Regions from separate parts of the Homo sapiens genome. Here region 1 is linked to region 2. Evidence: fine-mapped expression QTL. A gene starts in region 2. The other region holds a variant in brackets. All regions are shown on one strand. Distances are between the middles of the regions.

The links. PIP is the estimated chance that this variant, and not a neighbour inherited with it, causes the effect.
Region 1: its variant is fine-mapped to the expression of NUP50-DT in subcutaneous fat (GTEx, PIP 0.98). The same link has a PIP of 0.9 or more in macrophages and sun-exposed skin.

Annotation. Positions count from the first base shown.
Region 1 is chr22:45,103,996-45,108,378 of GRCh38, reverse strand. No RefSeq gene overlaps it. Among named protein-coding and RNA genes, the nearest start is that of NUP50-DT, 58 kb to the left of the region's middle. The variant T/A (reference allele first, on the strand shown) is at 2,684.
Region 2 is chr22:45,161,237-45,165,619 of GRCh38, reverse strand. NUP50-DT (NUP50 divergent transcript) reads left to right here and starts at 1,839. Exons shown (of 3, transcript NR_038956.1): 1 at 1,839-2,043. NUP50 (nucleoporin 50) reads right to left here and starts at 1,695. Exons shown (of 8, transcript NM_007172.4): 1 at 1,324-1,695. RefSeq lists silencers at 924-1,103, 1,134-1,363, 2,134-2,183 and an enhancer at 1,244-1,766.

The DNA of each region.
Region 1 (4,383 bases), 57 kb after region 2:
GCTCTCGGTTCTTTCATTCACCTGACGAGTGTTTATTGAGCTTGGACTGTTTCTTGGGCACTGCCTTGGACCCTGGTGAAATGGTGGGGACAAGACAGAACAGGTGCCCGTGCTCAGGTGCCCATGCTCATGCAGATTTGCTTCTGGTTGGGAGTGATGCAACGACGCACAAGTAGAAACAACCACTGTGGAGGAAGCTGCTATGTGGGAAGGAATGGAGGGAGTGGTGTGATGGAGCAAGCAGGGATCGGCAGATGGAGGGGGTTATGTGGTGTGGACGGGTGGAGTGGGCAGATAGAGTGCTTCTTTTTAAGAAAAATTTTAAATATATAATAAAAAAATAGACATTGGGTCTTGCTATGTTGACCAGGCTGGTCTCAAACTCCTGTCCTAAAGCAATCCTCCCATCTTGGCCTCTCAAAGCACTAGGATTACAGGCATGAGCCACCGCACCCAGCCGAGCTTCGAGTGCTTCTAACAGCAGGTGCAAAGGCCCTGGGGTGGGAAAGGGCTTGGCAGCTTTGGTGAAAAGGAGGCCAGCATGGCTGCAACCTGGTGAGTGAGGGAGAGAGGGGAAGGAGATGTGGGCGCCAGATCATGCAGACCCTCATGCGCTGGTGAAGGGTTTTGATTTTATCCTGAGAGCAGTTGTCCAGGGGGCCCTGGAGAATGTAAGGAAGGAGAACGTCAAGGTATGATGTTTGTCTTTAAAAGATTGCAGGCCGCTGTGCGGGAAACGGGGCGGCTGTCGTGGGTGAGACTGGAAGCTGCCACAGGGTCAGGAGGTCCTAAGAGCAATCCAGGCAAGATATGGTGGTGGCCTGGACCCGGGAGTGGACCGTGGACGTGGTGAGCAGTTGACACATGGGGCAGATATTCTGAATGTTCTTCCTGGTGTTGCTGACATTTCCAGCTCAGCCCCTGCCCTACAGCCATAAGAGCTTGGAGGTGGGACACTTGCCCATGGCATCTGAGTCATCTGGGATGGAACTGGAGAGGAGGACCCCTGAGCCACCTTGGCTGCAGCCCTATGCTCTGAGGAGACAGAGCAGCCTCTCCTGACAGGTGACAGCTGGGTTTCCAGGATGAAGTTGAGGAGCAGTGGCCGGGGATAAACATAGGCTACCTGGGGTTGACACCCACCCCAGTCTTCCCTTCCTTTGCTCCCTACTAGCCTCCAGCATGCTCATGACCATGCAGCCTCCCTGGCTCCATCAGCTCAGGCTGTTACGACAAAAATACCACAGACTGGGTGGCTTCAACAACTGACATTTATTTCTCGCAGTTCTCAAGCCTGGGAAATCCAAGAGCAGGGTGCTGGCAGATTTGGCATCTGGGGAGGGCTCCCTTCCTGGTTTGCAGATGGCCGTCTTCTGGCTGTGTCCTCATGGGGTGGAAAGAGCTGGATAACTCCCTGGAGTCTTTTTTCTAAGGACGCTATTCCACTCATGAGGGTTCCACCCTCGTGGCCTAATCATCTCCCAAAGACCCCACCCCTAATACCATCACATTGAGGATTAGGGCTTCAACAGAGGAATTAGAGGGGGGCACACACATTCAGTCCTTGGCATCCTCTAACCTCACATGGAGCACAGACCCAGGAGCAGAAGGCATGGGCTGCAGGCTCCACATTAACCCCAGCTGCCTTCATGTCTCAGGGGTAAGCTGGAGTACATTCATGGTAGAATGGCCAACATAGTGAATGAATTCAGAAGCCAAAACCTGGCAAGTATCACAGGCTGGTTCATCCATTCGCATTTTTGCTCAGCAAATACTAATTGAACATTCATAGCATGCTGAATGCTGACGGGTGCTGGGGTTGATGGTGAACAGGACCCAGGTCCTGCTGCCCAGCTGTCCAGAGGGCAGTAGAGACCATGGCCAGTCCCTGTGATCAGTGCTCTGATATGGAGGTGGGGGGACCCTGGAGGGGAACCCCACCGAGCTTTGGAGTCAGGGAGGCTTCCGAGGAAGTGGCACTTACTCTGCGTTGGAAGAATGGGAAGAATGGGAAGGAAGGAGGTCTTTCTTCTCCTGTGATCACCCATTCAACACCAGGGCCCTTCAGTTCTCGCTCCCAAATGCCTCTCGTCTCTCTCCTTCCCTCTTAGGGCCCACTGCTACCCCTTGCTTCAGACCCTCATTGTTTCTTGCCCGGGTTACTGCAGCGGTCCTGCCTCCCGCCTCCCAGTCCTTTTGCTTCCTCACCGTCTATGTTATCTCTCAAATAAAATATACAGAACAACATCTGATCACATCCATCCTCTTGGTCCAACCCTTCGCGTAGGATAAGTTCTGCTTGTTTTCCTTCTAGTACTTTACTAGTTCAACTTTTAAATCTACCTACAATTTGTTTTTACTATTTTAAATAACAACTTTATTGAGCGATAATTCACATACCATAACACTCACCCTTTTATACATACAATCCAGTGTATACAGTTTTACAGATACAGTTCCATTTTCGTGTATTCAGGGTTCTATAGTTATCACCCCCATCTGAACGTTTTCCTCAGCCCCCAAAGAAACTTCACGCCCATTGACAGTCACCCCTCCTCCTGCCTCCACTCCAGCCCCAAGCAAACACAAATCTACTTTTCATCTCTTCGGATTTGCCTATTTGGGACATTTTGTATAAATGGTCTTCTGTGACTGGCTCCTTCCACTTAGCATCTTGTGTTCA[T/A]GATTCATCCATGGTGTGGCGTGTATTAGTACCTCATTCCTTTTTATTGCCAAATAACATTCCAACGTGTGGCTAGACCACAACTTGTCTGTCCACTGCTGAGCTGCTGGATGCTGACATTTGGACTCTTGGGCTCTTATGAGTAACGCTCCCGTGACCATCCCTGTTCGGGTGTTCTGGTGCACACATCTCCAGTTCTCCTGGGAGGATAACACTTTCGAACGATTCGTTTTCTTTTCCTCTCCTCAATTCCCTTTGTTTGCTCTTCCTCCTACTCAAGCAACTATGCAGTCTGGCAGCACTGTCGCAAATGGATACCTTGTTTCTCTCACTGCCTCCCATAGGGTGGGGCTTGGTTTCGATTTGTCACTTGATGTTTACTTTGATCACTTGACAACAGTGGTGTCTGCCAGCATCTCTCTTATAGAGTCATTCCTTTTTTTTTTTTTTTTTTTTTTTTGAGACGGAGTCTGGCTCTGTCGCCTAGACTAGAGTACAGTGGCACGATCTAGACTCACTGCAACCTCTGCCCCCCAGGTTCAAGTGATTCTTGTGGCTCAGCCTCCCCTGTAGCTAGGATTACAGGCGTGTGCCACCACACCTGGATAATTTTTATTAGAGATGGGCTTTTTACCATGTTGGCCTGGCTGGTCTCGAACTCCTGACCTCAAGTGATCCACCCACCTCGGCCTCCCAAAGTGCTGAAATTATAGGCGTAAGCCACCATGCCCGGCCAAAGTCATTCTTTTTTCATGTTCTCTGCCATTTTGTGGGTAGGTACTTTGAAATTCTGCAAATATCTCCATTCCTCACCAAATTCTCAGTGCATTCATTTATTTTTTATATCTGTATGGATTCCTGGTTTCCTGTTATATTCAATGGAGTATAATTTTTTGTGACTATAATTTATTTTTATGTTCAGATTGTCCTAGATTTGGCCAGTGGTCACCTTTCCAAAGCAGCTTCTTGGTTTTTGACGCGTTCTTATTATTCTTTGAGCACTCCCTTCCTCTCTAAAGTCCCTCTCCACATGGTCTCTCATCTTGACCCCAAATTCTGGGTTCAAAGAGGACAGAGTGTTCATCAAGCGTGTGTGGTGTGCATGTGTGTGTGTGTGTGTGTGCGCGCGCATGTGCGTGCGTGAGTGCATGTGTGTGTGAGTGCATGCATGCATGAGTGCGTGTGTGTGTTTAACGCGCTGCTGGACCTCTGGCTAAAGCAAGTCACGTGGCTCAGGCCAGTGTCCACATGGGCAGGGCCACAGAGGGACCCAGGTGGCCTGATCCACTGGGGCCACTAGTCCTACATCTCACCATGCCATTGTTGACAGAGGTGTAGACAAAAAGAAAAAATTTTCTCCTATAAAAATACAAGCCCCCCAAAATTTTACAAATGCCAGCTGAAACCCAGCCTCAGCGTTGGAGAGAAAATAGGGAGTTGCAGGGAACTGACAGAGAATGAAAGGCTCCAAGCCAAGGTGGCAGCCCCTGTGTAGCCCCTGCTCATTGTTCTAGGTAGGACGTAGGACCTAGACCCAGTGTTGCCAGATCTTCCGATTTTTTTTTTCAGAGAAACTGAAACTCTTTAGAGTTTTAGATGAAATTCAGATATTAAAGTATGGGCTCAAATGTTTAATCCTATGGGAGGCAACAGAGCCCACTGGGGCTGGCATGCGGCTGGCAGGCCACTGCTGGCTCCCT
Region 2 (4,383 bases):
CAGACAATACATTTTACTTTTATGCTAGAAGTGGGGGGGAGAAAAAACCCTCTGTAAAATATTCAGAACAAGGCCTGGCACCTGGAGTCTTATGTCTAGCTACTGTTATGAAGAACTTAAGGGAGGCGGAAGGATCTCTTGAAGCCAGGAGTTGGAAACCAACTTGGTCTCTACGAAAATAAAGATGGACATAGATTAGATGAATAGAAATAAAAAATTAGCCGAGCGTAGTGGCGCACGCCTGTGGTCCCAGCTACTTGGAAAGCTGAGGCAGGAGAATCACTTGAGCCCAGGAGCTTCAGGCTACACAGTGAGCTACCACTACACTGAGGCCTGGTGACAAAGCAAGACCCAGTCTCAATCAAACAATCAATAAAAGGGAATTTAAAAAACGTTTGCGTTTGTGGGTAAAAAACCAAATTAGACATGATTTCTAGGTATGAAGCAACGTGGTGGGAGACTGAAAGTCTAGGTAAACTGGAAAAAAACATTATTTGTGCCTGATATAGTTATGTGGTCTCTGGCATCTGGTGTAGCTCTGCCCTTGGAAAGCTCAACTTGTCAACATCACCTTAAAACGAAAACACAGATTTGGCTACACTTAATAGTGAAGTGCCTTGTTGGAGGAAAACAACAAGGGGGCCAAGTAAGGAGACAGAAATACCTAATCTCCAAGCTGGTTCTTAATGGAACCGAGCAAATGGGTGATGAATAACCCGGGAACGCAGTAAGACAGGCCAGAGAGGTAATGCGCCCAAGAGAAGAGAGACGAGGGGCGGCCAGGGGGAGAGGAAGCTCGAGAGGAATCGCTAGGAAGGAAACGGAGAAGACCACGCCAGGACAGCCCTGCCAGCCCCCTACCTCCGGCGGGGCCGCAGGGGAGAGTCTCACTCGAGTCGGACGCCGCAGCCCGGTGGGGCCCGGGCCCCGCTTCAAAAACAGCCGGGGCTGCGTCGCCGCTGTCATCCCACCCCACCCTCCACCCGTCGCTCCCCCACCGCGCGCCCCGCCCGGCCCGTGCGCCCGACCCAGGCTCCCTCCCTAGAGTCCCGACCTCTAGCCCTGTACCCCACTTCCCAGGGTCCCGTCCTCCAGCCCCTTAAGCCCCTCCCCAGGGTCTGGTCCCCCGGCCCCGCACCCCTCCCCAGGGGCCCGTCCCCCGGCGCTGAACCCGCACCTCCCTCCCCAGGGTCCAGTCCCCAGCCCTGCACTCGCACTCCCCTCCCAGGCCCGAGCCCGCTCCCGCCCTCCCGGCCCTGGGCTCTCAGCACCAGGCTCCCGCCCTCAGCCTCTTCTCCTCCCGCGCCCGCCGCCGCTCCTCACCTCCTCGGCGGCCGCCGCTGCACTCGCTGGGTCTTGGTTGCGGCGAAACCCGGGGCGCAGCGGCGCAGGGGTCTGGAGCCCGCAGGGGTCGCCGGGCTGAGCGCGCTCGGCCGCTTCCGGTGCTGCGCTGCGGAACTCAGAGGACTTAGTGCTCGGCAAGCCCAGAGACTCAAACACCATATCCCTGGGGGGGCTCCTCACGCTGTGTTCGGCAGGGAGGCGAGAGCGCCGGTTCAGCCAGAGACAGCTGGGGGAACCGCGCCGAACACGCTCCGGGCGGCCATTTTGTAACTCGAATCTACCCCCAAAACCAATTCGAAAAAAAGGGAGGAAAGAAACGCCCGCGTTCAGCTACTGCGCAAGCGCGCCGGCGCTTCCGGCAGTAGCACCTCCTTCCGCCGGCCGGGCCCCTTACGCGGCGCATGCGCCCAGCTCCCTGGAAACCGGCGCGGGGCTGAGAATGCCGGTCTCGCGCAAGCGCGCACGCGCCGACCTTGATCTCGTAGCCGGCGCCAGCAGCCGCGCTTTGGGGCGTCGGCTCACGTGGGGCCGGCAACGCGTCTTCCAGGATGTTCGCGCGCTAGTCGCCGCTGAGGGGCCGGCGATGCGCGAGGAGTTCCGGCGAGGAAGGTCGGTCAGTGGACATGGCCGAGGCCCGCGGTGTCCGCGTGTGGGAGCTGCAGGGCTGAGGAGAGGCCGCCCGCAACCCTCGGGAATCGTGTGAGGTGCCACTGGGGTCGCTTCACATCAGGAGGCCCCGTCTCGGGGGACGCGCGCAGGTGACCCTGCTGGTCGTACCTGGCCGGGGTGGCCCGGAGGGGCTGGGTCTCGGCGCCAGGAGGGGCCGTGTGGGCCGCCTGTTAAAGGACCCCTCGTTCGCTGACATTTGATTTTGCATTGGGTGCCTTCTCTTCTGTTTTTTTCAGCCAGTGAGATCCGTCCTGGGCACTCAGCTGTAGAGCAGGGGAACGAGTCCTGCGCTTTTTGCGCTGAGGTCTCCTGGCCCGTAGGCCAGGCAGCCTCTGAGCTCCTTTCTCACCAGCAGCTTGCGATCCCTCATCCCTGGCCCTGTCACTCCCAGCTGTTTCCAGTGCCGCCCTTTTTTTTTTTTTTTTTTTGAGATGGAGAGTTTAACTTGTTCGCCCAGGCTGGAGTGAAGTGGCACGATCTTGGCCTACTGCAACCTCTGCCTCCCGGATTCAAGCGATTCTCCTGCCTCAGCCTCCCGAGTAGTTGGGATTACAGTCGTGCGCCACCACGCCCGGCTAATGTTTATATTTTTAGTAGAGACGGGTTTTCACCATATTGGTCAGGCTGGTCTCGAACTCGTGACCTCAGGTGATTCCCTCCCCCCGCCCCACCACCTCAGCCTCCCAAAGTGCTGGGATTACAGGCCTGAGCCACCGTTCCCGGCCTCGAGCGCCTTCTTATAAACTGGATGGTGGTTTTTGTTTTCACCTTCAAAGTCGAATCTCCCTAGTCCGTTTATTACCAGAAAGAGGTCTCCACTCAGACCCAGCGAGAGGCTTCTTGGATGTCGCGTAGGAAAGAATTCGGGGCGAGTCCACGGACTAAAGTGAAAGCAAGTGTATTAGAGAAGTGAGAAAGCAAAAGAATGGCAGAGCAGGGCATTCCTGAAAGCGGGAGGAGGAAGGCGCCCGCCTTAGGTACAGTGCTTGTTCAAATCTAAGGTAACACAGCCAAAGAAATCTTGGGGGACATGGGCTCTACCACGAGGGCCCACGACCAAGGTTTCATGCGCGTCCGTGTGAAGAGACCACCAAACAGGATTTGTGTGAGCAACATGGCTGTTTATTTCACCTGGGTGCAGGCGGGCTGAGTCCAAAAAGACAGTCAGCGAAGGGAGATAGGGGTGGGGCCGTTTTATAGGATTTGGGAAGGTAATGGAAAATTACAGTCAAAGGGGGTTGTTCTCTGGTGGGCAGGGGTGGGGGGTCACAAGGTGCTCAGTGGGGGAGCTTCTGAGCCAGGAGAAGGAAATTCACAGGGTTAATCACTTAGTTAAGGTTGGGCAGGAACAAATCACGATGGTGGAATGTCATCAGTTAAGGTGGGGCAGGGCCTTTTCACTTCTTTTGTGATTCTTCAGTTACTTCAGGCCATCTGGGCGTATACGTACAAGTCACAGGGGATGCGATGGCTTGGCTTGGGCTCAGAGGCCTGACACAAGGATTGTTCATCTTTGTTTACTGACTTTGGCAAAGATCTATATTATCTTTAAAGCGAAACCTAAATGAAGAATGCTTTTGATCTTAAGATATTGTTAGGTTTTGAAGGGAAGACGAGAGTTAAAGAATGACACACAGGTCGGGCGCTGTGGCTCACGCCTGTAATCCCAGCACTTTGGGAGGCCGAGGCGGGTGCATCACCTGAGGTCAGGAGTGGGAGACCAGCCCGACCAACATGGTGAAACCTCATCTCTACTAAAAATACAAAAATTAGCGGGGCGTGGTGGCACATGCCTGTAATCTCAGCTACTTGGGAGGCTGAAGCAGGAGAATCACTTGAACCCGCGAGGCAGAGGTTGCAGCGAGCCAAAATCACGCCATTGCACTCCAGGCTGGGTAATACAGTGAGACTGCGTCTCAAAAAAAAAAAAAAAAAAAAAAAAAAACAAAGGGCAGCTCAACAGCAACACAGGTATATGGCAAAAACCTACAGAGATGGGGGATCAGCTTAATGCCAGAGCCCACTGCTGCTTACAGGCTGGGGTACTTATAGGGCAGGAGGGGAATGGGCAGTATGGCTTGCCATGTGAATATACTTACCAGTATATCTATCCATAAAACGTTCTATGATCAGGCAGTTTGGCCCTTGTTCCCTCAGAAAGTGACAGTGATGTTCCTTGCACCTTTGCTGAGCAAGGTTTGATAGGGATGTTCCTTCAATTGGGCCTTTACCCAACAGGGTTTGGTAAGAAAGTTGGGCAGGAAATTTCTCACGGCCTGAACCCCCGTGGAATGTTTCGCTTTGACCAGTGTCTGCGAAATGGCGGGGGGCTTAGAAAATGGTGCAGTTTGGCAGGGCGTGGTGGCTCAC